4 separate regions of the Homo sapiens genome follow, and regions 2, 3 and 4 are each linked to region 1. Evidence: fine-mapped expression QTL. A gene starts in region 1. Each other region holds a variant in brackets. All regions are shown on one strand. Distances are between the middles of the regions.

What was found. PIP is the estimated chance that this variant, and not a neighbour inherited with it, causes the effect.
Region 2: its variant is fine-mapped to the expression of NT5E in whole blood (TOPMed, PIP above 0.99).
Region 3: its variant is fine-mapped to the expression of NT5E in whole blood (INTERVAL, PIP 0.91).
Region 4: its variant is fine-mapped to the expression of NT5E in whole blood (TOPMed, PIP 0.95).

What each region holds. Positions count from the first base shown.
Region 1 is chr6:85,447,297-85,455,073 of GRCh38, reverse strand. NT5E (5'-nucleotidase ecto) reads right to left here and starts at 4,991. Exons shown (of 9, transcript NM_002526.4): 1 at 4,596-4,991. The coding sequence starts at 4,934. RefSeq lists a silencer at 4,929-5,198.
Region 2 is chr6:85,584,288-85,592,064 of GRCh38, reverse strand. All of the region lies in intron 1 of SNX14 (sorting nexin 14), which reads left to right. Among named protein-coding and RNA genes, the nearest start is that of SNX14, 5.7 kb to the left of the region's middle. The variant TTTAA/A (reference allele first, on the strand shown) is at 4,299.
Region 3 is chr6:85,373,368-85,381,144 of GRCh38, reverse strand. No RefSeq gene overlaps it. Among named protein-coding and RNA genes, the nearest start is that of LINC02535, 28 kb to the left of the region's middle. The variant T/C (reference allele first, on the strand shown) is at 3,134.
Region 4 is chr6:85,413,355-85,421,131 of GRCh38, reverse strand. No RefSeq gene overlaps it. Among named protein-coding and RNA genes, the nearest start is that of LINC02535, 12 kb to the right of the region's middle. The variant G/A (reference allele first, on the strand shown) is at 2,799.

The DNA.
Region 1 (7,777 bases):
TTCTCAGGTGGCCTTTAGAGTTTACACAACCTCTTCTGCCATGATTCCTGCTACCTCACTCTGGTCCAACCTGGTCCATTGTGTAGATTCCTGCCTCTACACCTTTGCCCCATCCTCCTGTCCCTTCACTGAATCAAAACATTTCACTGTAGGGCTCCAGTTGTTCAAATATGTATGGGACCTCAGAGGTAAGCTGGTTCAAACTTCTATTTTATAGATGAGGAACTGGTGATGCTGAGAAGTGAATTGCATAGCCACAGATTGTAGATTTATCTCTTAAAAGGCAGAGAGAACCGTGGTGATCTCTGAATTTCCAGTGAGGAGTGTTAAAGGTGATAAGCTTTAAATTAGCAAACTATTAGGCAAACTTTCAAAAGCACAAGCCACAAGGAAAAAAAGATTAATTCAATTACAAGAAATGAAGAATTTCTGTTCAATGAAAGATACCATGGACAAAATTAATAGACCTAATATCATCATAATATATTTGCAATGTCTAAAATTGATCACAGATCAAAACCTATAACTCCTGAAAGTCAAAAAATATAAAGCTAACCCAATTTAAAAAATACCAAAGAATATGAATAAGCAATTAGAGAAGAGGAAGCTTAAAAAGTTAACAAACATATCAAAAAATGTCCAAACTCACTAGTTATTAGAAAAGTACATGATAAAGCAGCAATGTGTATTTTACACCTACAATAAAGCTGGATACTGCCATGATATATAGGTAAAATATAGAAATTTACATGTCCTGTTTGGGGATGGGAGTAGGTGGAAGAGAATGGAGGATGTCAGTCATTGAGGAAACCAGTCTTGTAGTACTCAAAGTATGCCCTGTGGCCAGCAATTCTGCTCCTGGGTAGAAATCATCTGGTGAGACCATCCAGGAAGATATCTGGAGCAGCATTATTTGTGGAGGCAGGGTGTTAGACGCCATCTCCAAACCCATCAGCCAGGGAGCAGATGGGTAAAATACGTGGAGATGGGTAAAATACACAGAGCACAATTCACAGTGATGTATAGGTATAAGGGCATCTAGGGCAACATGGACAAATCATAAAAACAATAAGTTCAGGACAAAAGTAAGAAACAGAAAGGGCTAAATAACAGGACTGGGTATGCCATTATAAAATATAAGCACACAAAGGTTTTGAAAGTGCATGTAGAAACAAAACTATATGCAGTCCATCAAACACATTAGAATGTTGTCTATGTGGGAGGTGGAGGGTGGCGAACAAAGGACCATCTATCTGACTAACCTGTCCCCTGGGTGAGTTAAAGGCGGGGGCCATGGTTCCCACCCTGGCTGCTGCCTCCCCCATTTAGGAGCAATTGGCTAGGGCTAAGGCTGCAGCCTTATGGGCAGGAAGTGGGCTCAGCAGCCAGGGCCTCAGAAGCAGCAGCCAAGCAGAGAAAAGGCACCTTTCTAGGGGACCCTAGAGACCTGCTCAAAGCTACCTTCCCCACAGCCTGTCTTGGTGAGAATCTCACCTCTGGAGGTGGATACCTTCAGTTTTGTGCTGTGGGGAGATTTCATAAGTCTGCTCAATGAGTAACTATAGCAAAAATAGTTTAGGCAATGGTACTTAGGTAAGATGGTAGAGGGCAGGCAGGTGGTAGACTGTGCCAGGCTGTGAGAATCAGATAATCTGATGCACAACCCAAACCTTCCCTTCCTCACAATTCCCCTCCTCCCCACCCAGGGCACATGAAACTCACTTTCAGTGAGCACCAGCAGGGATTATCTCATGTATTCCTCACAAAACCTCTGCAAGATGGGGGTTATCACTCCTGTTTTACAGCTAAGGAACATGAAGCTCAGAGAAAGTAACCAGGCCAAGCGCATACTGTCAGTGCTTCCATGCTGTCTTCCTCGTGCCTCAGGGGACAACAGTCCTTCCACTGAGACAGCTACACTAACTGGAGAGTTTTGCCATCCTCTTCCCAGTTTTCTGCCTAGTAGTGGTTCCAGGGGGTCTCCAGGATTGCCCTGGGTCCTCTACAGCAATCAGGATTACTCCAGTAGGTCTAGAAAGTGTACACCTCCTTGGAAGTTCCTGCTCGAGGGGACTCCTGTGTTTTAGCTGGATTCTAGGAAATTCCTCTTTGTCCTCCATATGCTTCAGTCCTTTTATGTGGCTCCTTTGAACTAGGTCCAGTCTCCAGGAAACTGGAGATGCCCCTCCACAACTGTTTTCCACCCTGATTTGAATCCCCAGTGTCCTAGGAATCAATATGCGGTGAGTGGTTACAGTGGAGGAACGTTTATACCACAACAGCAATAAATTCTCTGAGGGTTAGTATAATATAAACAATTGACAGTGAAACATCTGTGCAATACTGGAGTACAGCAGAGCTTTAGCACATGCTTTAGCACTACAGAACTGGGATTTTATGCACGTCAAATCATGTTTGACACACCCCCAAACTGCACAGAGTAAGTCCTGAGGACACAGCCATCTAACCTTGCCATGTGATCCGCTCCCAATCTTTACCCCCTGCCAACATTACGTAAGTAGCCTATTTTTCCTCAGAACCCAATTCAATTTTCTTGAGCAAAATTTGAAAGAAAGTAATTTCATCCAACAAAAAGGATTCTGAACAAACACAGAAGAGATAGGCTGTAACTTACAGCAGTTTACTCAGGCCTCACCTAGATGTCCTGTCATAAACATTTGATACCATGATTAACACCAGGAGCTCAACTAGACTTACAAGAGGGAAATATTATTAGGGAAAACTAGGAATTCTTCATTCTTATTTTTCCACTAAAAAGGGTTCACACAATTGTGGAGAAAAGAGTGTCACAAAAAGTAAAGTTTACAAAGTCGTGGTTTATATGCAAAATAAAACAAACACATGTAAGTTTATTCTACCCTTCTGGGAGGAAGTGGAGACACAGGGTAGCAACAACTCAATTCTACAAATATTTATTTTGTCATTACTGAGTGCAAAGTATCAGGGAAGTGTAGCTGTGGAATACCAATGCTTAAGAGACCACAGAGTTCTTGAAACCCACGATTCTTCTTCAAATCCAGATGTGTGTGAGCCCCACCTCATCAACTCTGAAGGCTGAAGGATCAGCTGGAATTTCTGCTGCAGGGTGTCCCTGATAAGCTCAAAAGCATCAGAACGGAGGGAGCTTTCTCCCCTTCTCTCATCTCATTAAAATGAGCTTTCTTGTTGTGGGGGGTTGGGGAGGGACCTTTAAAACCAAACAATGGTGCCCTCTTATCATCTTTTCCTGTCCTCCTTTCTCCAAGTTTCCAGAGGGGAAAATAAAACCAAACAAACCCCTCAGCATTGTGCTCTCCTGACCTCTAAGCTCTTCTCATATAAAGTGTACTGTTAGCCTTCTGTATCCCAGCCTAATCACACTTCCCTTTCCCTTCCACACTTGTGGACTTCACAGATTTCTCTGGACGTTTCTCTGGAGATTTCTCAGTTCTTCCTCTTCCAAAGCTCTTTTTTCTTCTCCCAAGTTTCTCCACAGTCTTGCTGAATCCCTTTACTCAAGGCTTTTACACAGGGTTAAATTTGGGTGGTGGTTTTATTTTTTTTTTAACCACCATATATACATCTTGGTTGTACTTATTTATTACTGTGCAACCACCTCTGCTCCCTTTCTAGAATTTAGTGCAATAGAAAAGGCATTACCTTTAACCTAACATTTGGGACTTTGAACTAAACTTTTGCACATGTTTTAAGAGCCCATTATCTCTTAAGTTGGACTCTTCCTAAATCTCTGCCGCCAAACCTACTTTATTGAAATCCTTTGAAACCCAAGTCTTTCCACATTTTGGCTCTCTCTGAAGTTTCTTTCTTTCTTTCTCTTTCTTTCTTTCTTTCCTTTTCTTAACCCTATATTATAGTGTCTGGTAATAACAACATATATAGACACCACACTATGTGTCTGGTAATAATATAGAGACCACACTATGTGCACTATGTACAATTATAATCCTTATTTTTATACAGGATAGAACTGAGGCAAGAAAGAGTAAATAACTTGCTCAAGGTCACATAGAAGGTAATTGAACAGAGAATCTACCCCAAAGCTGTGAGCTTAATTACTCTCAAGCTCCGGGGTCAAAGAGATCTGGTGTCCATTCTTATCACGTCTCCCTTTTTGCGGGGATGGTGCCTGTTAATTTATTCAGCTTCTTCGACGCGGTTTCCCTTTCAATAAGATTGAGATAAAGCATTTTTCGAAAGATCTAGATTGAGATAAAGCATTCTTTGAAAGATCTAGCAGTAAATGAGAGCTGCGTGAGGGATCCGATTCAGTCCCTAGCTCTGGATAACTGTCAGTGCTTCTACGCACCCCACCTTAAGCCCCTCGCAGGCAGGACTGGGTCCTGCTCCTCTAAATACTCCCATCTCATAGTGGGGGCGCAATAACGTCCGTTTAAGACGAATCGTCCAAGGGACTTCTATGCATCCAGCTGGCACACTGGCCGGAGTCTCACTTTATCCCCACATCTCTCCGCGCCCTGGACCTAGGCTTGCCACACTCTGCCATCCGCTGCTTTTCCAGCCCGGCTCCTCTCTCAGTCCGGGACTACTATCCCGGGCGCGGGCTCGGGTCTTACCATGGCATCGTAGCGCAGGGCGTTCATGAAGTGCGCCACCTCGGCGCCCTTGTACACGGTGAACCAGATAGTGCCCTGGTACTGGTCGCCGGCGTCCAGCAGCAGCACGTTGGGTTCGGCGCGGCGGATCTGCTGAACCTTGGTGAAGAGCCGAGCCACGCCACCCATGCAGCGGCTGGCGTTGACGCACTTGCTGGAGTCCTCGCTGGTCTGCTCCAGCCGGCTGTGCACGTCGTTGGTGTGCAAAATCGTAAGCTCCCAGGCGCCAGCCGCAGGCCACAGCACCGCGCCCAGGGCGAGGAGTAGCGTCGCGGGCGCCCGCGCGGCTCGGGGACACATAGCTGTGGCGCGTGAACTGGGTGCGAAAGCGGGCGAGCCGGGCGAGTGCCGGCGAGTAGGGGCGAGCAGCTAGGGCCGGGGCTCGGTGCCCCGGCTGGAGGGGCGGGGCCCGGGTCAAGGCCGGGGCGGGTCCTTCTTCAGCCTGGAGGCCGGCTTGGCGGCCAGGCGCAAGTTCGCGACGTCACCCGATCCGACCCTGGTACCCGGAGCGGCCCTGGCGCGGCTGTCGGCTGGCACCAGCTCCCTGCAGGAAGAGTGGAGAGGTTGTTCCCGGCGGGGAGCGGGTACCGGCCGCATCCCGGCCGGACCAGGGAGCCTGGGCGCCGGCAGTTCGGCTGCTGGTGCGCCGCTCTTTCGGGGGCGCGAGGAAGGAATTGGAGGGGTCCGCCCCGCGCCTGGGTCCTCTCTGAGTCTCGCCTCATTCGAGGCACGGGTTTTTCTACAAAAGGAATGTATGGTTTGTGGTTGCGCTAGCTCATCACTTCAAAGAACCAAAGAAGGAAAAGAGAGGGGGCGGGAAGAAAGATGAGCGAGCTGAGGGGCAGAGAGGAGGAGTAAAGAGAGGCCGGGCAGAGGAGCTCCTTGCAGTTTCGGGCTGTGAGAGCCGAAGCTCACTGAGATGTGACGCTTCCTGTTGGGTTGAGAACGCACGAAGTCTACGATGCTTAGACAAAAAAATCTCAGAAACTAAGAAATCATTCGAATCCAGTTCCTTGTTTATTCACAATTAAAACCTTAGTGATAAAACAGAGGCGACGCGCGGACAGCTCCTGGAAGCAGAAACACGATTGGGGTAAAATCCGGCAGCTATCAGGACGGGAAGGGATGCTGCCCTTCTTTGCTTTTCTGGTCTTATTTTATTTTATTTTATTTTTATTTTGTCGCGTGTGCTTTCGGTGTCGCAGTGAAGTCATAGCCAAATACAATGTTAGGAAGATTTTCCTCTATGTTTTCTCCTAAGAGTTTTATAATTTAAACTCTTAGACCTTTAATCCATTTTGAGTTAATTTTCATATGTGGTATGAGTCCACATTTACTCTTTTTCATGTGGATATCCAGTTTTCTTAGTACCATTTGTTGAAAAGACATTCTGTGCCCGTTTTTAAGACATTGACCTGAGGTTCGGAGATTGTAAATCATTTGCCAAGAAAGGCCATGCAGTTTGGGAGCAGCAGTGCCTGGGGCTACAGAAGACCCTTGCTTCTGGGACACCCTCTAATGTCATGCTTTGCAAGGTTTTGCTCTGTCCCTCTTTGAGCACCTGCTAGAAGCAGGTAAAAGAACTGGTAGTTTTGCTGTTTTAACTTAAAAAAAGAATGATTTTAGACTTACAGAAAAGTTGCAAAGGTAATAAAGGGAGTTCCCACATACCCATCACCCATATTGCCTTATGTTAACAGCTTATATAACCAATGAAACTAAAAACTTAACAGTGATACGAAACTATTAACTGTGTTACTGATTTTATTTTAATTTCACCAACTGTTCCACTAATGTCCGTTTTCTATTCCAGGACCCAATTCAGGATACCATATTGCAGTTAGTTTTCCTGTGTTCTTAGCCTCCTCTAATCTGTGACAGTTTCTCAGTCAGTTGTCTTCAAAAACCTTGACACTTTTGAACAGTACTGGTTTCTGTATACTATCCCTCAGTTTGGGTTTGTCTGATGTTTTCTCATGATTGGACTGAAGCTGTGGATGTTTAGGAAGAATGCTACAGAGATTATGTGCCTTTCTCATTGCCTGGTATCTGTGGGTACACGGTATCAACATGACCTATCACTGATCACTGGGGAACTGATCATTTGTTGTTTCTTGTCTTTTAAACCTAAGCCACTGCAATAGTTTCTGAAATTCCTGTTCTGGGGATGCTACCAGATTTCTGCTTCAATATCATTTCCATGCCATTTGTTTTCATATACATCTAAAATGGCCTTTGATTGTTTATTGCACCAAGTTCAAGCTTCGCAAACTGGCATTTTGAAGTCTCATTTTATCCAGCCAACTTTACCTTCCACTGTTCCTCACACATTCCCTTTGTCCTCATTTCTTCTCTCCAAACCACCATTTCCAGTCTGTCCTTAGGCCAAGGCCCGGGGTTCCTTTAATTTCTTGTTCAAGTCAACATGAAGTTCCTTTGACTTCTTCACACAGCAGTGAGTTTTTCTCTTTTCTAAATTTCTGGTCAGTTCCTACAATCTCACTTTAATGTGGTTTTACTTTTTTTCTCCAGGTGTTTAATGTGTGTTTTTGGTCTTCTCCCCAAGCAATGGAAACAGAGTTGCTGCTTCAGTGGTAGTAGTACTTGCAATTCAAGTAACACTAACTTAAAATCTACTTTAGACACAGTGGGCGATAGTATGAAAGAACCAAGAAGGATTTCGGCTGTCCTGGAGCTGATAATGCTGCAAACAAGGTGAGGGTGCATACAGTAAGTAGCTGCAAAGCCATGAGGATCATAGAAAATTTCCCAAGTCCATGAGGAAAGAAAAATATACAGGCAAAAATTTACATACAAATCAGGGCTTTATTTATTGTTTCATCAGTTGATTAGACTTAAGAAAGTAATGAAGAAAATGTCAAAATAATGCAGAATAAACTTAAAAGTGTGTGGTGCTAATATCCATTACATTGGGAATAGCCCCCCAAATTGAGAAAATATTATTTCAGTACATATTAGAAAACTATTTTCTGACTCAGGAAAAATCTCACTCACATCATTGATGAACAATATATCTAGTGCTAAAACTAGGTTTTAATTTAATGACTATAGCCTGTACTACACTCATTATATAATAGGGTGACAAATACTTTAATAATAGATTACATATTACATCCAATAAC
Region 2 (7,777 bases), 140 kb before region 1:
AGTATGAAAGAAATGTAAGCTTCATATGATTTTTATTTTTATTTTTATTTTTGAGACGGAGTCTCACTCTCTTGCCCAGGCTGGAGTGCAGTGATGCGGTCTCGGCTCACTGCAACAGCCACCTTCCAGGTTCAAGTGATTCTCATGCCTCAGCCTGCAGAATAGCTGGGACTACAGGTGGGCACCACCATGCCCGGCTACTTTTTTTACATTTTTAATAGAGACGGGGGTTTCACCATGTTGGCCAGGCTGGTCTCGAACTCCTGATCTCAAGTGATCCACCTACCTCAGCCTCCCAAAGTGCTGGGATTACAGGCGTGAGCGACTGCACGCAGCCCATATGATTAACTTTTGTCCATGGATTCTTACCTACCTCTTTTGGGAACTGGGTCAGTTTAGGTTTCTAAGGTAGGAGAGCCATCTAGTAGGAGCAGGTTAAACTAGATTTCTGAGGTCATCTACTTATGGTCATAACATTTAGTGTTGTGTGTTATTAAAAAGTCATAGGATGCCATCTGATCTGTATACCATCTAACCTGTACCCTGTATTTCTTTTATGCAGAGAAGGTAGGAAATACAGGTAAATGTTACCTGAGTGGTTGGGTTTATGAGTGAAGCTGTTTTTGCATATGTTTTGGTGTTTTCCATTTGTTACTGCTGTAGTCAGCAAAAGTGATTTTAAACACTAGAACTGTCTTGAATAAAACCATGATTATGTATCCCTTTTCCAGGAAAAATCTTTTGGAAGGTGCCAGATGGTGTATGTAGCATGCTTTTCAGTGTATATGTGTGATTAAAAAAAAAAAAACTTATGTGTGTATTCACGTACACACACACACACACAGATGATAAGAGTATCTCTGAAATGTTGTTATACAAGAAAACATGGGCCCTTCTGAGATGGGGTATACTAGGTACATCTATTCTGAAATAAAAAATAATTTTATATGAAGTTGATCCTTGAACAGTGCAGAGATTAGGGCCACTGACCCCTATGAAGTCAGAAATCCGAGTGGAATACCATGGGATCCATACAAAGTACCACTAATGATACTGGGAGTACTCCCAAGAAGCAGAGAAAAGTAATGACATTACAGAAAAAGTGAAATGCTTGGTATGTACTATGGATTGAGGTTTGCAGCTGTGATTGCCTGCCATTTCAAGATAAATAAATTGAGTGTAAGGACCATTGTGAAAAAAGAAAAGGAAATTCATGAAGCTGTTGCTGCAGCTATGCCAGCAGGTGTGAAAACTTCGTACTTTTTGCAAAGTACCTTTTCATGTTTTATTGAAAATTTAGCTTTTATGTGGGGGCAGAATTGCTATGAGAAAGGCATACATATAAACTAATGCTATTCAAAAACAAGTGAAGTCATTGTATAACAGCTTAAAGCAGAAGGAAGGAGAAGGATCTAAAACTGGGTAATTTAATGCCAGCAAAGGATAGTTTGATAATTTTAGGAAGAGATCTGGCTTAAAAAATGTCAAGAGAACCGGAGAAAAAGCCTCTGCTGACCAACAGGCAGAAGATGAGTTCCCAAACACCATTCAGAAAATCATTGAGGAGAAAGTATTAAATATATCTTCCTGAGTGGGTGTTTTTTTGTAAAAGCAAGTTTATTAAGAAAGCAAAAGAATAAAAGAATGGCTACACCATAGGCAGAGCAGCCCTGAACAAGCTTTTAATGCTGATGAAAGTGACCTGTTTTGGAAAAAATGTCACAAAGGACATTTATTAGTAAGGAAGAGAAATGAGCACCAGGATTTAAGGCAGGAAGGTGTACGCAAATTCTTCTATTTTATGGATATGCAGTTGGGTTCCTTGTCTATGAAGTGTCTAACCCCCGAGCTTTGAAGGAAAAAGATAAGTACCAGCTGCTAGTCTTGTGGTTGTATAAGGAGGCCTGGACAACAAGAATCATTCTTTCTGGATTAATTTCATTGATGCTTTGTCCCTGAAGTCAGAAAGTACCTTGCCAGCAGGGATTGCCTTTAAAAATTCTTTTGATACTGGACTATGCCCCTGGCCACCCAGAACCCCATGAGTTCAACATCGAAGCTGTGGAAGTGGTCTACTTGTCCCCAGACATAATGTCTCTAATTCAGCCTCTAAATCCAGGGGTTCATAAAGAACTTTAAGGCATTACACATGGTACTCTATGGAAAGGATTGTCAGTGCTGTGGAAGAGAACTCCAATAGAGAGAACATCATGAAAGTTTGGAAGGATTACACCATTGAAGATGCAGTCATTGTTATAGAAAAAGCCGTAAAAGCCATCAGACTTGAAACAATAAATTACTAGTGGAGAAACTATGCCCAGGTGTTGTGCGTGACCTCACAGGATTTACACCAGAGCCAATCAAGGAAATCATGAAAGAGATTGTGGATATGACAAAAAAGGTCTTTCAGCATAAGGATCTTACAGAAATTCAAGAGCCAGTAGACATCACACCAGAGGAATTAACATAATATAACTTGATAAAGATGAGTGCTTTGGAACCAGTGCTAGACAGTGAGGAAGAAGACTTTGAAGAAACAGTGCCAGGGGCCAAATGCAGTGGCTCATGCCTGTAATGCCAGCATTTTGGGAGGCCAAGGTGGATGGCTCACTTGAGCCCAGGAGTTCAAGCCTGGGTAACACGGTGAAACCCTGTCTCTACAAAAAATACAAAAAATTTAGCTGGATGTGGAGGTACACGTCTGTAGTCCCAGCTACATGGGGGGCTGAGGTGGGGAAGATCAGTTGAGCCTGGGATGCAGTGAGCCATGATGGCACCACTGCACTCCAGCTGGGATGACAGAGTGAGACTCTATCTCAAAAAAAAAAAAAAAAAAAAAGTGGTGCCAGAACACAAATTGACAGTAGACAATATGGCAGAAGGTTTTCAATTATCAAGACTGCTTTTCACTTCTTTTATCACATGGACCCTTCTTTGATACTGGCACTGAATCTAAAGCAAATGGTAGAAGAAAGATCAGTACTATATAAAAATGTTTTTAGAGAAATGAAACGGCAAAAAGTCGGGCAGAAATCATGATGTACTTCTATAAAGTCGAGTGTGCCTGCCACTTCTGCATCCCCTTCTACCTCTTTCACCCCTGCAATTCCTCAGACAGCAAGACCAACCCCTCCTCTTCAGCCTACCCAGTGTGAAGACAATGAAGATGAAGACCTTTGTGATAATCCACTTCCACTTAATAGTAAATATATTTTCTCTTCCTTATGATATTCTTAATAGCATGTTGTTTTCTCTAGCTTACATCATTGTAAGAATACAGTATATAATACATATACAAAATAAGTACTAACCAACTATTACTGTATTGGTAAGGCTTTTGGTCAACAGTAAACTATTAGGAGTTAAGTTTTGGGGGAGTAAAAAGTTGTATGTGAATTGTTGACTGCGGGGAGACCAATGTATATTGTCTTTATCTGATTTAGGAATTAAAATTATATTAGCCCATTTATTTATTTATTTATTTATTTAGAGACGGAGTCTCGCTCTTTGCTCAGGCCAGACTGCAGTGGCGCTATCTTGGCTCACTGCAAGCTCCGCCTCCCGGGTTCATGCCATTCTCCTGCCTCAGCCTCCCAAGTAGCTGGGACTACAGGCGCCCGCCACCGCGCCCGGCTAATTTTTTTTTTGTATTTTTAGTAGAGACGGGGTTTCACCGTGTTAGTCAGGATGGTCTCGGTCTCCTGACCTTGTGATCTGCCTGCCTCGGCCTCCCAAAGTGCTGGGATTACAGGCGTGAGCCACCGAGCCTGGCCTTATTTATTTTTTTGAGACAGTCTCAGTCCATCACCCAGGCTAGACAGTGGCATGATCTTGGCTCACTGCAACCTCCACCTCATGGGCTCAAGCAGTCCTCCCACTTCAGCCTCCCAGTAGCTGGGACTATATATAGGCTGAGCTAATTTTTTAAGTTTTTTTGTGTACAGACGAGGTTTCACTATATTGCCTAGGCTGGTCTCAAACTCCTGACCTCAGGAGATCCACTTGCCTCTGCCTCCTAAAGTGCTGGGATTACAGGTGTGAGCTGTTGTGCCTGGCCTAGCCCTTTAAATGAGCAGTTTCCACACACACCCTGCCCCCCGCTCCTCCCCTGCTGAAGCAGTTTGTATAAGGTATGTATCTGTTTCATGAAAGTTTGGTAAAACCATTTGGGCCAGGGGCCTTTTATTGGCAACCAGGATTCTAATTACTATTTTAATTTCTTTAATGATAATTGCTCTATTCAAATTCTCTAATTTTTCACTTACTAGTTGTTGCATTTTTATCTTTTAAACAATTTA[TTTAA/A]GGCGGGGTTTGGTGGCTCACGCCTGTAATTCTAGCACTTTGGGAGGCCAAGGTGGGAGGATCACTTGAGCCCAGAAGTTCGAGACCAGCCTGGGCAACATGGCGGAACCCCGTCTCTCCAAACAAGTAGTTGGTCATGGTGGTGTGTGCCTGTAGTCCCAGCTACCCAGGAGGCTGAGGTGGGAGGATCACTTACTTGTGCCTAAGAGGTTGAGGCTGCAGTAAGCTCTGATCATGCTACTACATTCCAGCCTGGGATGACAGAGCGAGACTCTGTCTCAAAAAAATTTTTTAAAAGTTATTTTATATAGATTTTCCATGTATTAATATATAGTTGTTCATAGTCTTATTTTTTATTTCAGTATAGCTATGGTTACTTTTTTCATTCTGTGTTTTGTATATTTGTATCCTTGATCTGTCTTGCTAGAGGTTTGTCTTTTTAATTAACTTTTGATATTGAAAATTTCCAAGCATACATAAGAGAGTGTAAAAAACTTGCAAGCACCCATTACTCAACTTTAACAACTATCCATATTTTGCCATATTTTTTTTTTTGCCTTATCTTTTTAAGAAATGTCTTATAGAGTGGGTGAGGTGGCCCATGCCTGTAATTCTTGCTCTCTGGGAGGTGGAGGTGGGAGGATCACTTGAGGCCAGGAGTTGGAGATGAACCTGGGCAACATAGAAAAACACTGTCTCTCTCTCTTTCTTTTTTTTGAGATGGAGTCTCACTTTGTCACCTAGGCTGGAGTGCAGTGGCGTGATCTTGGCTCATTGCAATCTCCACTTCTTCAGTTCAAGGAATTCTTGTGCCTCATCCTCCCAGGTAGCTGGGATTACAGGCATCCACCATCATGCCTGGCTAATTTTTGTGTTTTTAGTGGAGACTCCCAACATGGGGTTTTGCCATGTTGGCCAGGCTGGTCTCAAACTCCTGACCTCAAGTGATCTGCCCACCTCGGCCTCCCAAATTGCTGAAATTATGCACCTGGCCAGAAAGACCCTGTCTGTACCAAAAAAAGAAAAAAAAGTAGCGAGCCTATGGTCCTAGCTAACTCGGGAGGCTGAGGTGGGAGGATTCCTGGAGCCAAGAGTTCAAGGCTACAGTGAAATATGATTGTGCCCCGACACTCCAGCCTGGGTGACAGTGCAAGACCATGTCTCTATAAAAGATAGAAATAAAAAAAAAATCACTTCCATACAAAACTATAATATTACAAAATTAACAATAATTGGTTAATATCATCTAATAACTACTCCATAATAAAAATTTTCCCTATTGGGTAAAAATATATAGTGCAGTTGTTCTAATTGGTATCTAAACAAGTTGTACTCCTATTTGGTTCCTACATCTCAAGCTTTTCTAAATGTCTTGTAATCTAGAATAAGGGTTGACACATTTTTTTCTGTAAAGTGTTAGGTAGTAAATATTTTAGGCTTTGTATACCATGCTAAGTCTCTGTTGCTTATTCTTCTTTCTAAAAAACCCTTTAAAAATGTAAAACCTTTCTTAGTATGAGGGGCATACAAAAACAGGTATACTTTTGTCCACAGGCCATCATTTGTCAACTGCTGATCTGGAAGATCCCTCCTCACCATTTTTTTCTCCTTGCCATTGACTTGTTGAGGAAACTGGATCATTTGTTCACATTCTGGATTTTGTTGTGGTTTCCTTGTAGTGTCTTGTATTTTAATCCTCACATTTGTATTTTTGGTAGTCACAGTGTTTGATCTATAGGCTCAATTAGATTTAGTTTTTTTTTTTTTTTTTTCCTGTTGCGGGGAGTGGTGCAAGAAGACTTTAGTGATGCCATGTACATTCCATTGCATCACATCAGTGGATATGTAAGATAGGATTGCTTCACTTTTAATGGGTTCAGTTAATGTCCACCGATACTGTGTCCAACAAACTTACTCTTTGGTTTTACCATTTATTTATTTCTTGAATCAGTTACTTAATTATGGGTTACAACATGGTTATTCTCGAATTCTCTCATTTCTTCTGTATTTTTAAGTTTGATTCTTTTTTGTAGAATTGCTTTACTCCATCCGTTAGGTCTATTTAGTTATTCTGATAGATAGTTCAAATTGGAAAAGTAGGATAAATGCTTACTCTTTATCAATTTTTAGAGTAATAATTGGTACCCTACTAACCTCCATTAGTATCCAGTTAGAAGTTTGGTTGTTTTATTAATTTTTTCAAAGAACTAGCTTATATTTTGTTAATTTGTCATTGTTGTCTATTTTGTTGATTTCTGCTCTTGACTATTTCCTTCCTTTTCATGTGTTTGGATTTATTGTTTTTCCCCCCAAGTTTCTGAATGCTTAGCTTATTGGTTTTCAGTGTTTTTGTTGTTGTTGTTGTTTGTTTTTTTTTAATTATACTTTAAGTTCTGGGATACATGTGCAGAACATGTGGGTTTGTTACATAGGTATACATGTGCCATGGTGGTTTGCTGCACCCTCAATCCATCATCTACATTAGGTATTTCTCCTAATGCTATCCCTCCCCCAGTCCCCCACTCCCCAGCAGGTCCTGGTTTGTGATATTCCCCTCCCCTGTGTCTATGTGTTCTCATTGTTCAACTCCCACTTATGAGTAAGAACATGCAGTGTTTGGTTTTCTGTTCCTGTGTTAGTTTGCTGAAAATGATGGTTTCCAGCTTCATCCATGTTCCTGAAAAGGACATGAACTCATCCTTTTTTATGGCTGCCTAGTATTTCATGGTGATAGTATTTCCAGTCTATCACTGATGGGCATTTCGGTTGGTTCCAAGTCTCTGCTATTGTGTATAGTGCTGCAATACACAAACGTGTGCATGTGTCTTTATAGCAGAATGATTTATAATTCTTTGGGTATATACCCAGTAATGGGATTGCTGGGTCAAATGGTATTTCTGGTTCTAGATCCTTAAGGAATCACCACACTGTCTTCCACAATGGTGGAACTAATTTACACTCCCACCAACAGTGTAAAAGTGTTCCTGTTTCTCCACATCCTCTCCAGCACCTGTTGTTTCCTGACTTTTTAATGATCACCATTCTAACTAGCATGAAATGGTATCTCATTGTGGTTTTGATTTGCATTTCTCTAATGACCCGTGATGATGAGCTTTTTTTCATATGTTTGTTGGCTGCATAAATGTCTTCTTTTGAGAAGGATCTGTTTGTATCCTTCGCCCACTTTTTGATGGGGTTGTTTGTTTTTTTCTTGTAAATTTGTTTAACTTCCTTGTAGATTCTGGATATTAGCCCTTTCTCAGATGGATAGATTGCAGAAATTTTCTCCCATGCTGTAGGTTGCCTGTTCACTCTGATGATAGTTTCTTTTGCTGTGCAGAAGCTCTTTAGTTTAACTAGATCCCATTTGTCAATTTTGGCTTTGTTGCCATTGCTTTTGGTGTTTTAGTCGTGAAGTCTTTGCCCATGCCTGTGTCCTAAATGGTATTGCCTAGGTTTTATTCTAGGGTTTTTA
Region 3 (7,777 bases), 74 kb after region 1:
GTTTGTTACATAGGTATAGATGTGCCATAGTGGTTTGCTGCACCTATCAACCCATTATCTAGGTTTTAAGCCCCACATGCATTATGTATTTGTCCTAATGTTCTCCCTCCCCTTACTCCCAACCCCCGACAGGCCCTGGTGTGTGTTGTTCCCCTCCCTGTGTCCATATGTTCTCATTGTTCAGCTCCCACTTATGAGTGAGAACATGCGGTGTTTGGTTTTCCATTCCTGTGGTTTTCTTTTTTTTTTTTTTTAATACTGTAAGTTCTAGGGTACACGTACACAACGTGCAGGTTTGTTACATATGTATAAATGTGCCATGTTGGTGTGCTGCACCCATTAACTCGTCATTTACATTAGGTGTATCTCCTAATGCTATCCCTCCACCCTCACCCCACCCCATGACAGGCCCCAGTGTATGATGTTCCCCTTCCTGTGTCCAAGTGTTCTCATTGTTCAATTCCCACCTATGAGTGAGAACATGCAGTGTTTGGTTTTCTGTCCTTGCAATAGTTTGCTGAGAATGATGGTTTCCAGCTGCATCCATGTCCCTACAAAGGACATGAACTCATCCTTTGTTATGGCTGCATAGTATTCCATGGTGTATATGTGCCACATTTTCTTAATCCAGTCTATCATTGATGGACATTTGGGTTGGTTCCAAGTCTTTGCTATTGTGAATAGTGCTGCAAAAAACATACGTGTGCACTTGTTTTTATAGCAGCATGATTTATAATCCCTTGGGTATATACCCAGTAACGGGATGGCTGGGTCAAATGGTATTTCTGGTTCTAGATCCTTGAGGTATTGTCACACTGACTTCCACAATGGTTGAACTAGTTTACAGTCCCACCAACAGTGTAAAAGTGTTCCTATTTCTCCACATCCTCTCCAGCACCTGTTGTTTCCTGACTTTTTAATGATCGCCATTCGAACTGCTGTGAGATGGTATCTCACTGTGGTTTTGATTTGCGTTTCTCTGATGACCAGTGATGATGAGCCTTTTTTCATGTGTCTGTTGGCTGCATAAATGTCTTCTTTTGAGAAGTGTTTGAGTTCTTTGTAGATTCTGGATATTATATCTGGATATAAAAACTGGAGCAGTTTTGAGTGAGTTTCTTAATCCTGAGTTCTAGTTTGATTGCACTGTGGTCTGAAAGACAGTTTGTTATAATTTCTGTTCTTTTACATTTGCTGAGGAGTGCTTTACTTCCAACTATGTGGTCAATTTTGGAGTAAGTGTGATGCGGTGCTGAGAAGAATGTATATTCTGTTGATTTGGGGTGGAGAGTTCTGTAGATGTCTATCAGGTCTGCTTGGTGCAGAGCTGAGTTCAATTCCTGGATATCCTTTTTAACTTTCTGTCTCATTGATTTGTCTAATGTGGACAATGGGGTGTTAAAGTCTCCTATTATTATTGTGTGGGAGTCTAAGTCTCTTTGTAAGTCTCTAAGGACTTGCTTTATGAATCTGGGTGCTCTTGTATTGGGTGCATATATATTTAGGATAGTTAGCTCTTCTTGTTGAATTGATCCCTTTACCATTATGTAATGGCCTTCTTTGTCTCTTTTGATCTTTGTTGGTTTAAAGTCTGTTTTATCAGAGACTAGGATTGCAACCCCTGCCTTGTTTTGTTTTCCATTTGCTTGGTAGATCTTCCTCCATCCCTTTATTTTGAGCCTATGTGTGTCTCTGCACGTGAGATGGGTCTCCTGAATACAGCACACTGATGGGTCTTGACTCTTTATCCAATTTGCCAGTCTGTGTCTTTTAATTGGAGCATTTAGCCTATTTACATTTAAGGTTAATATTGTTATCTGTGAATTCGATCCTGTCATTATGATGTTAGCTGGTTATTTTGCTTGTTAGTTGATGCAGTTTCTTCCTAGCATCGATGGTCTTTACAATTTGGCATGTTTTTGCAGTGGCTGGTAGCTGTCGTTCCTTTCCATGTTTAGTGCTTCCTTCAGGAGCTCTTTTAGGGCAGGCCTGGTGGTGACAAAATCTCTCAGCATTTGCTTGTCTGTAAAGGATTTTATTTCTCCTTCACTTATGAAGCTTAGTTTGGTTGGATATGAAATTCTGGGTTGAAAATTCTTTTCTTTAAGAATGTTGAATATTGGCCCCCACTCTCTTCTGGCTTGTAGAGTTTCTGATGAGAGATCAGCTGTTAGTCTGATGGGCTTCCCTTTGTGGGTAACCCGACCTTTCTCTCTGGCTGCCCTTAACATTTTTTCCTTCATTTCAACTTTGGTGAATCTGACAATTATGTGTCTTGGAGTTGCTCTTCTCGAGGAGTATCTTTGTGGTGTTCTCTGTATTTCCTGAATTTGAATGTTGGCCTGCCTTGTTAGTTTGGGAAAGTTCTCCTGGATAATCTCCTGAAGAGTGTTTTCCAACTTGGTTCCATTCTACCCATCACTTTCAGGTACACCAATCAGATGTAGATTTGGTCTTTTCACATAGTCCCATATTTCTTGGAGGCTTTGTTCATTTGTTTTTATTCTTTTTTCTCTAAACTTCTCTTCTCACTTCATTTCATTAATTTGATCTTCAATCACTGATACCCTTCCTTGTAGTTGATCGAATTGGCTACTGAAGCTTGTGCATTTATCATGTAATTCTTGTGCCATAGTTTTCAGCTCCATCAGATCATTTAAGAACTTCTCTACACTGATTATTCTAGTTAGCCATTCGTCTAATCTTTTTTCATGTATTTTAGCTTCTTTGCAATGGGTTCGAACTTCCTCCTTTAGCTCGGAGAAGTTTGCTCTTCTGAAGTCTTCTTCTTTCAACTTGTCAAAGTCATTCTCCGTCCAGCTTTGCTGCGTTGCTGGTGAGGAGCTGCGTTCCTTTGGAGGGGGAGAGGTGCTCTGATTTTTAGAATTTTCAGCTTTTCTGCTCTGTTTTTTCCCCATCTTTGTGGTTTTATCTTCCTTTGGTCTTTGATGATGGTGACGTACAGATGGGGTTTTGGTGTGGATGTCCTTTCTGTTTGTTAGTTTTCCTTCTAACAGTCAGGACCCTCAGCTGCAGGTCTGTTGGAGTTTGCTGGAGGTTCACTCCAGACCCTGTTTGCCTGGGTATCAGCAGCGGAGGCTGCAGAACAGCAAATATTCCTGAACAGCAAATG[T/C]TGCTGCCTGATCGTTCCTCTGGAAGCTTCGTCTCAGAGGGGTACCCAGCTGTGTGAGGTGTCTGTCTGCCTCTACTGGGGGGTGCCTCCCAGTTAGGCTACTCTGAGGTCAGGGACCCACTTGAGGAGGCAGTCTGTCTATTCTCAGATCTCAAACTCCGTGCTTGGAGAACCACTACTCTCTTCAAAGCTGTCAGACAGGGACATTTAAGTCTGCAGAGGTTTCTGCTGCCGTTTGTTCGGCTATGCCCTGCCCGCAGAGGTGGAGTCTACAGTGGCACGCAGGCCTCCTTGAGCTGTGGTGGGCTCCATACAGTTCGAGCTTCCTGGCTGCTTTGTTTGCCTACTCAAACCTCAGCAATGGTGGGCACCCATCCCCCAGCCTCGCTGCCACTTTGCAGTTCTATCTCAGAGTGCTGTGGTAGCAATGAGCGAGGCTCCATGGGTGTGGGACCCTCCGAGCCAGGCGTGGGATATAATCTCCTTGTGTGCCATTTGCTAAGACCATTGGAAAAGCGCAGTATTAGGGTGGGAGTGACCCGAGTTTCCAGATGGTGTCTGTCACAGCTTCCCTTGGCTAGAAAAGGGAATTCCCTGACCCCTTGCGCTTCCCAGGTGAGGCAATGCCTCGCCCTGCTTCAGCTCACGCTCGGTAGGCTGCACCCACTGTCCTGCACCAACTGTCCGATAAGCCCCAGTGAGATGAACCCAGAACCTCAGGGGGAAATGCAGAAATCACCCATTTTCTGTGTCACGCTGGGAGCTGGAGACTGGAGCTGTTCCTATTTGGCTCAGGTTCATTCATCTTTAATCTTCTGCTTCAAAGAATATTTGCAGTTTGAATATAATATTTTGAGTAATAATATGTGTCATTCTTTGTTTTTTTTTTTTTTTTTTTTTTTTTTTGACACAGAGTCTTGCTCTGTCGCCCAGGCTGGAATGCATTGGCTCTATCTAGGCTCACTGCAAGCTCTGCCTCCTGGGTTCATGCCATTCTCCTGCCTCAGCCTCCTGAGTAGCTGGGACTACAGGTGCCCGCCACCATGCCCAGCTAATTTTTTTTTTCTGTTTTTAGTAGAGATGGGGTTTCATTGTGTTAGCCAGATGGTCTCGAACTCCTGACCTTGTGATCCACCCAGCTCATCCTCCCAAAGTGCTGGGATTACAGGCATGAATATGTGTCATTCTTAAAGTGATGGTCAGAACTGCATGGCTTTTGAAACTGTGATGCAGGCTGATCTCACCCATAAGCATTAATAGACAGTGGCGGTGTGATTATTAACAGCTTTGAGAACTTTATCAAAAATATCTATGATGTCTGAAATTTCTACCATTGACCTTGCCTTCATTAAGAAACATGGAAAAACTCAAACCCTGTTCCAGTAGGGCAGTGTAAATAGAGAGGAGAGTTGGAGTGAAGCAGATGATGGGCCTGGATAAATAGAGGAGGGCAGTGTCTTTCCAAGAAGAAAATTGCTGCTCATCTCCAGCCAGTTTTTGCCATGCAGAAATAGTGGTTTACAGATTTCAGTGGTCTAAGTTTTCAAGAGATGTGGGATGTCCTGATTCTCTGTGAAGTATCCTAATTTTAAAGCACTAGATCAACATTACTTGGGCCAATAAATATGTCTTCAACTTAAGTTGTCTCATGGACTGTCAGTTTGCCATGTATATTTAGGAGTAATCAGTTAAGATACTAGCTATGGACTGAAAGTTTGTGTTCCCCAAAATTCATTTGTTAGAGACTAATCTCTAGCATGATGGTATTTAGAGGTAGTAGGGCCTTTGGGAGGTGGTTAGGTCATAAAGGTGAGGCCCTCACAAATGGGATTAGCCCCCTTACCAGAAACAGATAAAAGCTTCCTTTCCCTCTCTCTCTGCTCTCCCTTAAGTGAGGATACTAGGAGAAGGTTGTCATTGGCACACTCAGAAGTGGACCCTCAGCAGACATGGGATCTGCGAGCACCTCAGTCTGGACTTCCCAGTCTTTAGAATTGTTAGAAATAATTGTTGTTTAAACCACCCAATCTATGGCACATGTGTATACATATATACACTTATACACATACACATAGTGAGACCCTGTCTCTTAAAAATTATGTATCTAGGCCGGGTGGGGTGGCTTATGCCCATAATCCCAGCACTTTGGGAGGTCGAGGTGGGTGGATCACCTGAGGTTAGGAGTTTGAGACCAGCCTAGGCAACATGGTGAAACCCCATCTCTACTAAAAATACAAAATTAGCCAGGTGTGGTGGCACATGCCTGTAATCCCAGCTAGTTGGGAGGCTGAGGCAAGAGAATCACTTGAACCTGGGAGGCAGAGGTTGTGGTGAGCCATGATCATGCCACTGCACTCCAGCCTGGGCAACAGAGTGAGACTCCATCTCAAAAAAAATTATGTATCCATAGTGTGAAGTGTTACATGCAATGCAGTGTTATACACACTACACGCTATAGATAATAAAATTTTTAAGAGATAGGGTCTCACTATGTTGCTCATACTGGACTCAAATTCCCAGGCTCAAGCCATCCTCTGCCACAGCCTCCTGAGTAGCTGGGACCAGAGTTGTGAGCCACTACACCCAGCTGTCTATGGTATATTTGTTATAGCATTCTGAACTGACCAAGACAATGCTCAAACCCTCGAGAGTGACCACATATTAACACTTTTTTGGCAATGTCAACATTATGAGATTATGAGAGGACCATTCCCATTTGTATGTGGACAGGACAGCTTGGAAGCAAAAGTCAGGGGTGGTAGTGAATGGAAGGCCTGGGCTCTGGGCGTGGAAAAGCAGGTAATTAGGGACCTTCGGAGCATGCAGGGAGTAGGTCCTTCTGTTATCTGCATGATTTCAGTGTTGTGATCCTCCAGCACAGATTTGCAGAATCCATCAGATAACTTTTCCAAACCTAAGACAGCCTGATAGATGGGAAACATATTATTATGAATATCGAATCAAGTAGATGAGCAATCTGGGTGGGGAGTTGTCAGATACCAGCATGAAATTCCCCTTGTTAAAGAGTTGCAAAAGGGTCTCAGTATGTCCGTCTGGCTACAGAAAAATTAGTAGAAAAATCTGGGCCAGGCAGTGGTGGCTCACACATGTAATTGCAGCACTTTGGGAGGCCAAGGTGAGAGGATTGCTTGAGGTCAAGAGTTCAAGACCAACCTGGGCAACATAGTGAGAACCCCCTCATCTCTACAAAAAATTTAAAAAAAATTAACTGGGTGTGGAGTCCTAGCTATGTGGGAGGCTGAGGCAGGGGGATTGCTTGAGCTCAGGAGTCTGAGGCTGCACTGAGTTATGATTGCACCATTGCCCTCCAGCCTGGGCAACAGAATAATACCACACCTTTAAAAACTAAGAAAGAGAGAAAAATAAAAATCTGTGTATTTTTGGTATTTAAAATGTGTTAATGTTTACAATAATTTAGTATACAAGTGTATCTATCCGATTAACTTTCTAATCCAACTTTTAAATATTAGTTGATTTTGGATTTATAATTTTTCTAGAAAAATGTTTTATTTTAACTTTTTTGGTACATCATAGGTGTATATATTTATTGGTTACTTAAGATGTTTTTAGATAGGCATGCAGTGCATAATAATCACATCAGGGTAAATGGGGTAGTTATCACCTCAAGTATTTATCCTTTGTATTTCAAACAATTGAATTGTACTCTTTATTTTTAAATGAACAATTAAATTATTTTTTACTATAGTCACCGTGTTGTGCTAGCAAATAATAGGTCTTATTTATTCCTTCTAACATTATTTTGTACCCATTAACCATCCCTCCTCCCTATTCCCCCTCTCCCCCAATACCATTCCCAGCCTCTGGTAACCATCTTTCTATTCTCTATCTCCATGAGTTCAATTGTTTTAATTTTTATCCCCCACAGATGAGTGAGAATATGTGAGGTTTGTCTTTCTGTGCCTGGCTGGATTTATCATTTTTCATTCAGAATTTTACTGTTTACAAATAGCATGGCAATGTTTAAAAGAACATAAGATTAACTACATTCATACATTTAATTTTATTAGACTTTACTAAAATTGAATACTTGGGAAGCATTTTGCTTGGTAGACATTTGAAGAACGCAGAAATTTGAATATATTTCTTTTGTAAATTCAGTTTAAAATATTAAAGGGAGTTAATAAATTGTGTTTACAAATGGGACCAAATGTAGATCAAAGTTTCTTTTTGTGAAAATTAAAATTTACCAAATTATAAATAGAATAATAGGGTTTTAATTTGAAAGCTTAAGAAAAAACTTTTTGAATTTGTAGTTTTAGTAAACTTAATATTAATTCTTAATAAAGTTAGACTCTAGAAAAGTCTTTTTTTTTTTGAGATGGAGTTTACTCTTCTTGCCCAGGCTGGAGTGCAATGGCGCAGTCTTGGCTCACTGCAACCTCTGCCTCCCAGGTTCAAGTGATTCTCCTGCCTCAGCCTCCTGAGTAGCTGGGATTACAGGCACCCACCACCATGCCTGGCTAATTTTTGTATTTTTAGTAGAGATGGGATTTCACCATGTTGTCCAGGCTGGTCTTGAACTCCTGACCTCAGGTGATCCACCCGCCTCAGCCTCCCAAAATGCTGGGATTACAGGCTTGAGCCACCGCACTTGGCCTAGAA
Region 4 (7,777 bases), 34 kb after region 1:
ACTTAAATTCCCAAGCATGTATTAATTCATTTGAACTTCTCATATTGGTTCACAAAGAAAGCATCCTCTCTAAAATTCCAGATGTGTAATTGACCCTACTGTTTCCTCTTATCTAAATAAGGTATACTGAAGTTGTGAGCTGTTTGCTACATTAAAATATTGGAGGTAAAGGACTATGTTTTAGTTGAATATCTTCTTATTAGGACCTGGAACTAGTGTCAAATTAGAGCCGTTATGTTCTTCCCCTAAGGACCCTCCAGAAACAAGAGTGAATATTACAGGGGAACCAGTGCAACATTGGCCAATGATTTCATTATCAGTAGGAGCTGGGAAGAGTTTTCCCAAAAGTCAGTGGTCAGTTTAGGCCTTTCTGCATAAGTCTTGGCACAACCTCTGTATCCTAGAAATTGGAGTCAAGTTGGAAAGCCTTCCTTCTCCTTGTCCTTGCTTCTTTTGACTCTTGCTTTTATGGCTTCTTCTTTGTCAACTGATTTACTTCTGCATGTACAGACCTCACTTCACTTTCCCAAGAGAAGGCCAGAAGTTCCAACCCTCTGGCTTTTGTCTTAGGTTCACAGCTGTTTTTCCTATCCTTGTCCTCTGCTCAGGTTGTCTCACTCCTGACACAGTTGGATGTGGTTGTTTAGGTTAATGTCTACTAATACCGTCACTCTATTTTGATTGCATTTAGTATTCTTTCTGTCTCTGAGGTCATCAGGAGAACAAACAATCTTTGGTAAGTCATTTCATTTTTCTTATTTTACTGGCATCATAATAAAATCAGGAAAATCCTTTCTGATGACAAATTCGGTTGGAGATAAATCTTAGAGCCATCGAATAGATGGTGTGATGAAGCATCACTGCTATCATCTGAATGCTTGTGCCCTTCCCCACCTCCAAAGTCATATGTTAAAATCTAATCTCCAATGCAATAGCATCAAGAGGTGGGGCCTTTAGGAGGTGATTTGGTCAGGAGGGCTCCACAAGGGATACGTGCTCATATAAAAGAGGTCTGAGGGAGCTTATTTGCCTCTTCCTCTATGTGAGGATGCATAGAGAAGGTGCCATAACTGAAGTGAAGAGTGAGTCCTCACCACACACCAAATCTTCTGGTGCCTTGATCTTGGATGGACATGCTAGCCTCCAGAACCATGAGAAATAAGTTTCTATTATTTATAACTTGCCCAGTCTGTGGTATTTGGTTATGGTAGCAGGAATGGACTAAGACAGTCACAAAAGTTAACTTTTTCACTTGTGCAGTTTTGGAGCTCTCTGCTTATGTAGGTTTGTCTTCTGTGTGGTGACCCTGTGGTTGGTTGTCCCCACCTAGAATTCGTAGCAATATTTTCACCTCTTGGCCAGGTAGATCATTCTCTGTTTAGTTAACCTATTCTCTCACTATGTCTGGATTTTAATGTACTCATTAGTGAGTAACAAAGGAAAAATCCTTGTTGATTCTAATTGGAAAACATGATTAAACCTGTCTCTCAAAATCAAGCCTCTTTTTCCTTTAGGTCCTACAGTGCTGCTGTGCTCATGGCACCTGCTGACCAAGGGCTGAGGTGACAGGGTTGGTCAGTGTAAACTCTGATGACCCAGGACATTTTTAGGGCCCAAGAACTTGGAAAATTTTTTTAGATAGCTCAGAAGCAAATGTTCTGCTCTCCCAGGCCTCTTTGTTCCTCCATGCTTATGATGCCTAGTGTTGCTTTTTCCCCTTTTAAGTTTTCCTGAATAACATTATTGCTTTTCGTTAGTGCACTCCTCCCTACTTTGACCAGCTCCTCCCCACTGGCTGAAAAATGTTTCACATTTTCCTGAGGTCAGCTCCTGGCTGACTGGCCAGGAACCTCAACAGCAGAAAGCACCCAAACAGCCTTTCACTAAAAGGGAAAACTTTTAGTGAAAGGGGAACTGAAGTTTTAAAGCTGAGTGCAAATAGAGACTGACCACAAAATTCTTGTTGCTGTAGGTGTGGCACTTCACTTGTTTTCCTGAGTGTGAGTGTGTGTGTGTGTGTGTGTGTGTGTGAGAGAGAGAGTGAGAGATAGAGTTTAACGTATCTGTGTTTAGTATCTTTTATCCTCTATTTGTATTCATTTACTCATTCATTCTCATCCTCTCTCTTTTACATGGCCTCAGAATAATTTTTTCCTGTTATTTTCATCATTAAAACACAATCAGAACTGATGGTCAGGTGGTCCTCAGTGGCACAGCTATCATGACTGTTAAATATAGAAATACTTCTGTACCTGACAGCAAGTAACTGTTGCCACAAGTCCCACCTGAGTGCTCCTCTGATGCCAAGGGATCCCCTAGCCCTCCTCACAGTCCAGCTTCTGAAGGGCTCATATGCGGCATAGTGAGAGGAGTGTCCTCCAGGATCCTGCTTTGGCGCACCATCTGCCTGCACCCACCCACTCTTAGGTGGTGCCCTCTGTGCTGTACTAGTTATCACATATTTGGATCTTCACCTCCTGCTAATAACAATATTAACCCAGACTGTATGGCTATTTAGCCAATCTTAGTTCTGGAATTCAGCCAAGATTCAGGAAGAAAACAGAAGAAATCCCAGAACCATAAGAATAGATTTCACAAAGTCCAAGCATTGTGCTCATACATGTTCCTCATAAGGAAGGACACTGGGACAACTTAGAGACAAAATTCTTTTTTTCTGAAAGAGAACGAATACAACATAAACCTGTAATTATGAAACTTTATCTTGAAGCACTGCTCATCCATGGCAATGGAAGATGGTGTGGGAGGCAATGACAAGCATGCATGTGGGATATCAGGAT[G/A]TTTGGGAGGGAAGTGGTTTGATTTGGGGAATACGCAGTTGGTCTTTGAAAGTATGACAACAGTGGAGGGAGGATTTATTTTCTGGGACTGCATTGAAATGGAAGGAATTCCTGAGACTGATGAGTCAGTCATTACTATGGGTTCCTCTGGAAGGACCTAAGTCCTTAGCACTTCTGGTTCTCCTGAATTTGGAGTCTGGGTGAAATGGCTCCAGCAGGCCAGGGGTTAGTCCTCTGCCTGTGAGGCCTATTGGAAGTGAAGGATACAGTAGCTACAAGATTACAGAGAACTGGTCAAAGGGACTCAGGGGAATCTGAGTTGAAAATCAGTGTGGCTCCTGCAGGGGCCTCCGGCAAGTTAGCTAACTTAAGTGTGCTTTGGTTTTCTCCTCTGTAAATGGAGAATAAAATATGTCCCTACTGCAGTACCTGCACCCACCCCATCCCCCTCCTTTTTTTTTTTTTTTTTTTTTGCAATTTAAATCTCTGTGGTTGGCCCTGACAAATGTCAGTAATGATTTTTGCTCAGAGAACTAGAAATAAAGTGGCACCTGGGAAAAAGAAACATCCTAAGGGCATATAGCCATGAGATACCCTGGAGCCCCACATGCTCTCTGACCAAGCCTGGCTGAATTGTCTTTCTTAAATTTTTTAAATTAAAAAAAGTTTTTAAATGCTTGAAAAAAAATTGGAAAAAAAAACACCCAGAAAAATTAACATCCATATACTGCTCTCCTAGATTTAAAGCTAGCAGCATCTTCACACACACACACACACACTCACTCACTCACACATTTCCTTTCATAAGCCATCTGAAAGTAGTATGCAGGCATCATGACACATCACTCCCATATAATGTTCTTATTCAACAATCACAATTGAATAGGGATATTTCACATCTAAGGAACATTAATTCAAAAATACCCAACACATAGTCAATAAATAAATTTACTAAATTGTTTTCAGAATGTCATTAGAGTCAAGGTTAATGCATTACATTTGCCTGCTATGTTTCTTTCATAGCCTTTAGTCTAGAGCAGCTTTCCCTTCTCCCTCTGTTCTTTCTCATGGAACCTTTTAAGTGTCCAAGCCAGGTACCTTGCAAAGCACTCCATGGATTCCAGTCACTGTTTCCTGGTAAGATTGCATTTCTGAGCCAGCTTTTCTATCTATGGTGCTGTGGGTCATGGGGTTGGCTTTGATGCTGTGGCCTGAGGATCTTCCTAGGTATTTGGGGTTAGACTTAGAGAACAAAGAGCAAATTTTGTATAGGTTTGAAGACTCAAACTTATTAATACGTCTCTGAAGGACTCTAGGTTTATTCAGTCCTTACTCACCACCACCTTAACTTATACAAAATCAGTCAGACTCGCTACAGAATGACCTCTGAGATCATTTCTAAAATTCACAGCAGAAAAGGAACTGAAGTGTTTGATTCATTTTTCTTCTGCACTGATGATGTGGGCTAACTCTCAAGGCACCAAAAGTAAAATAGAGGTTGATTGTAGACTTGGAAGAAGAGGATTTGTTGTTTCTGTCTTGAGTATTTATGAAGAAATCTCCTCAGCCTCCAGCTTCCCCATAACAGACTGACCAGGCTATAAATTGGGCTAAGACTTTGAAGTGTGAAATGTTGGGGGGTGGGTAGACAGAAAAATGGGCTATCATTGCCACAAGCCACCCAGCACTCAGACAGCTCCTCTCATTTCTCAAGAAATCTATAATCATGGAGCGAGAAGAGATCATTTTGGAGATGATGAAATGGAGGCTCAGAGAGACAGAGATTTGTTCAATGCCACCCAGTTCGTTGGTGGGCATGACATTAAAGCCTGTGTCTTAAATTCAGCCCAGTGATTTGTCTATGATCCACAATGATGGAATCTTTAGATTTTGTATTTAAATGCCTGAAGAAACAGTTTTGAAATGACTAGTGCTGAGGAAGAAAAGAACACAATCAATCCAGGAGATACAAGAGACTCGTAAAACAGTTAAAATCAGAACAGAGTGTTCCATTGTCATATTCTTGAATCTGAAGGAATGGCAATGTGCTGTTCTGTGTGAAAGGGCAGAGCACTTTGCTTCTTGAAAACTCTTTCCTTTCTGACCTGACAAAAATCAGTTTATTCTGACCTTCAGAGTTTGAGTCAAGATACCATGTGTGGGGATGAGTAACATTTTCTTGGTTTTTCATAATGGATTGTTTATCTTTTAAGTTGCAAACAGTTCATTTTTTGAACTATATCTGTTTTACTGGCATTTTCCTTCTGAAGCAATTTTGCAAAAATCTCTTTCTTCCTCCTCCACAGGCATATAAATACCCTTTGCAATTACCACGTGTCTGACTTTACCTGTTTATTACAGAGGGAGCTTTCAGAAGTTCCAATTATACATCAAATTCATGGCCTAGATTGTACTTTGATCCTAAAAGTATAATTTAAGATAATTTTTGTCAAACAGTTACACAAATTATTGTGGTCTTAATTATTATTTTTTGTACATAAAATATATTTGTTTAGCTAGGTCCCCTTTTTAAGAAAATGTATTATTGGTGCCCCATAGAAGAAAGAAAAGAAAGAAAGGAAGAAGAAAGGAAAAGAAAACTTACCATCAGCCACCACCTGCTCTTAGTTAGAGTTCAGTTTTTTTTTCTGGGTTGTGAATTTCTCAATATTTTTTGAATGTTTATAAAAATCTCCAGAAGCAGTATAGGAAGGAAGAGTCAGTGAGATGCACACCTGTATCAGTCAGATGTTTTGGCTGTAAGTAGCAGAAACAGACAAAAAAGAGACCCCTAGTTTGCTTCAAATAATAAAGAAATTTATTGGTCTACATAATGAGAAGTCTAAAAATGGGGTGGCCTTCAGGGTGCATTGATCTTGCAACTCAGCATCATTAAGAACTCAGGTTATTTCCATCTCTCCATTCTGTTAATCACAGTATAATCTTTGTTCTGAGACTGGTTGTTTTGGGGGTCAAAATATGTTTGTCAGCAGCAATGGAAGCTGCAGGAGTTCTTGTTCAGATTTAACTTCAAGGAGAGATAATCTCTTCCTATGGTTTTCTCTAGTGTCAGGAAAATTTCCCAGAAGATCCCAGAACAAACCTCCGCATACTGTATTTACCTAAATCAAGTTACTTGCCCATTACTGAACCCATTCCTGTCATAAATACCATGCTTAGACCTAGTATATAACGTTGTCCCCAGGAAGCAAACTCTGGGACAATTTGTGTGCAGGAGGTTAATTGGCCAGTACCCTCCTATCAACACTTGTGGAGGAATAAAGGAAGTGGGACTGGACAAAGGAAGGCGTTAAACTAAAGACTTAGTCAGTTCCACAGGGAATCCTGGCCTTTCAGAGTGGTCTTTCCTTGCATTAATTCTGCCCCAGCTTTATGCTCGGCTTTGAACAGTCACTGAATGTGAGCTGACTCCAGGGATACGGTGTGGTCTTGGGTAAGGTAGCCTTTGGCTTGGCTCTCCAGGGTAATGCCTAGAGAGGGGCTCAGCTGAGACCCATTAGTTACCAACACTTTTAGCATGGAGGCATTGTTGGGGAATGAGTATTTCAGACCTAAGGTGAAGGCATCTGAGAAGTACACCACAGCATACATTACATTTCACCTCTTGAGTCATTTGGATCTGCAGTCTTTGTATGTCTTCTGGGAATAGCTCCTCTAGAATTCTTAGTGATCTGTGTTCCTGGAGCTTACAAAAGTAAGGTTAGCAGTCAGGATGAATGACTGCCCCTGTGAGGGTTGAAGGATGAAACAAAGTCAACCTGCTACCAAGTGGCTGGTTCCTTTCTTCAGAGGATGGTGCTACTGCCCCTCTACCTGCAGTCATAGGCAGATGCGGAAGAATAGAAAAATTTCAAGTAGCACCAAACTAGCAGTTAGTTTACAATATTTTTCCTCCAGGATCTCCAGCTGGCTCTCAACATGGTCAAAATCTAGAAGTACCACTGTGGAACAGAAAGAAAGTCAAGGAAATACATTTAGCTCTGGCTTGAGGAACTCTTAAAAGAGAACTCTTGGCTGGGCACGGTGGTTCATGCCTGTAATCTCAGCATTTTGGGAAGTCAAGGTGGGTGCATCACTTGAGGCCAGGAGTTCAAGACCAGCCTGGGCAACATGGTAAAACTCTGTCTATACTAAAAATACAAAAACTTAGCTGGGCCTGGTGGTGGCGCATGCCTATAATCCAAGCTAGTTGGGAGGCTGAGGCAAGAGAATCACTTGAACTCAGGATGTGGAGGTTGCAGTGAGTCAAGATTGTGCCACTGCACTCCAGCCTGGGCAACAGAGCAAGACTCTGTCTCAAAAAAAAAAAAAAAAAAGAATTCTAAAGATCAGAAAGAGTAGAGAGGGATTTACCTGAGTTTCCCCCCCCACCCCTCCTTTTTCTCCATTCTCTTTTATCCCAGCCCTACACAACCTTATGGGGATGGCGGTGTTCATCATGGAAAACTACATGAATTAAAACTCTAAGGGAGGGGAGCCTTCATTTTTCATTTGGTGGAGCTGCAGTTCCAACCTCCAACCCTCTTTATAATGTCCCCTCTCTCCCTTGTCATTTGGTCCCCAAATGTAGCTCAACCACAGAAGTGGGTGGATTTTTGCTGATGGACTGAACACAAGAAGACCCAGGGAACTAGAAACTACTAGGAAGATAGCAGAGAGGGAAGTGCACAGGAAATGGATCACATAAAACTGTTTATTAACATCTGTACTGATCTCCAACCTGCCTATAGGTGGATCTGCTTCTAATTAGCATTCAAAAAATGATGAGAACTGAGCCACCAGATAGACTTCTTCCTAGGGCCCAGACAGATCCCTGGGTAACATTCTCCACAAAATTGATCTCTATAGCACTTAAAGCCTTTGAAACCTGAACTGACATTGTAATCACAGCACCCAGAAAGTGGGCTGGAACCTAACCAGGCAAGTGCCTGCTAAAACCCAAATATCAACATTCTCTT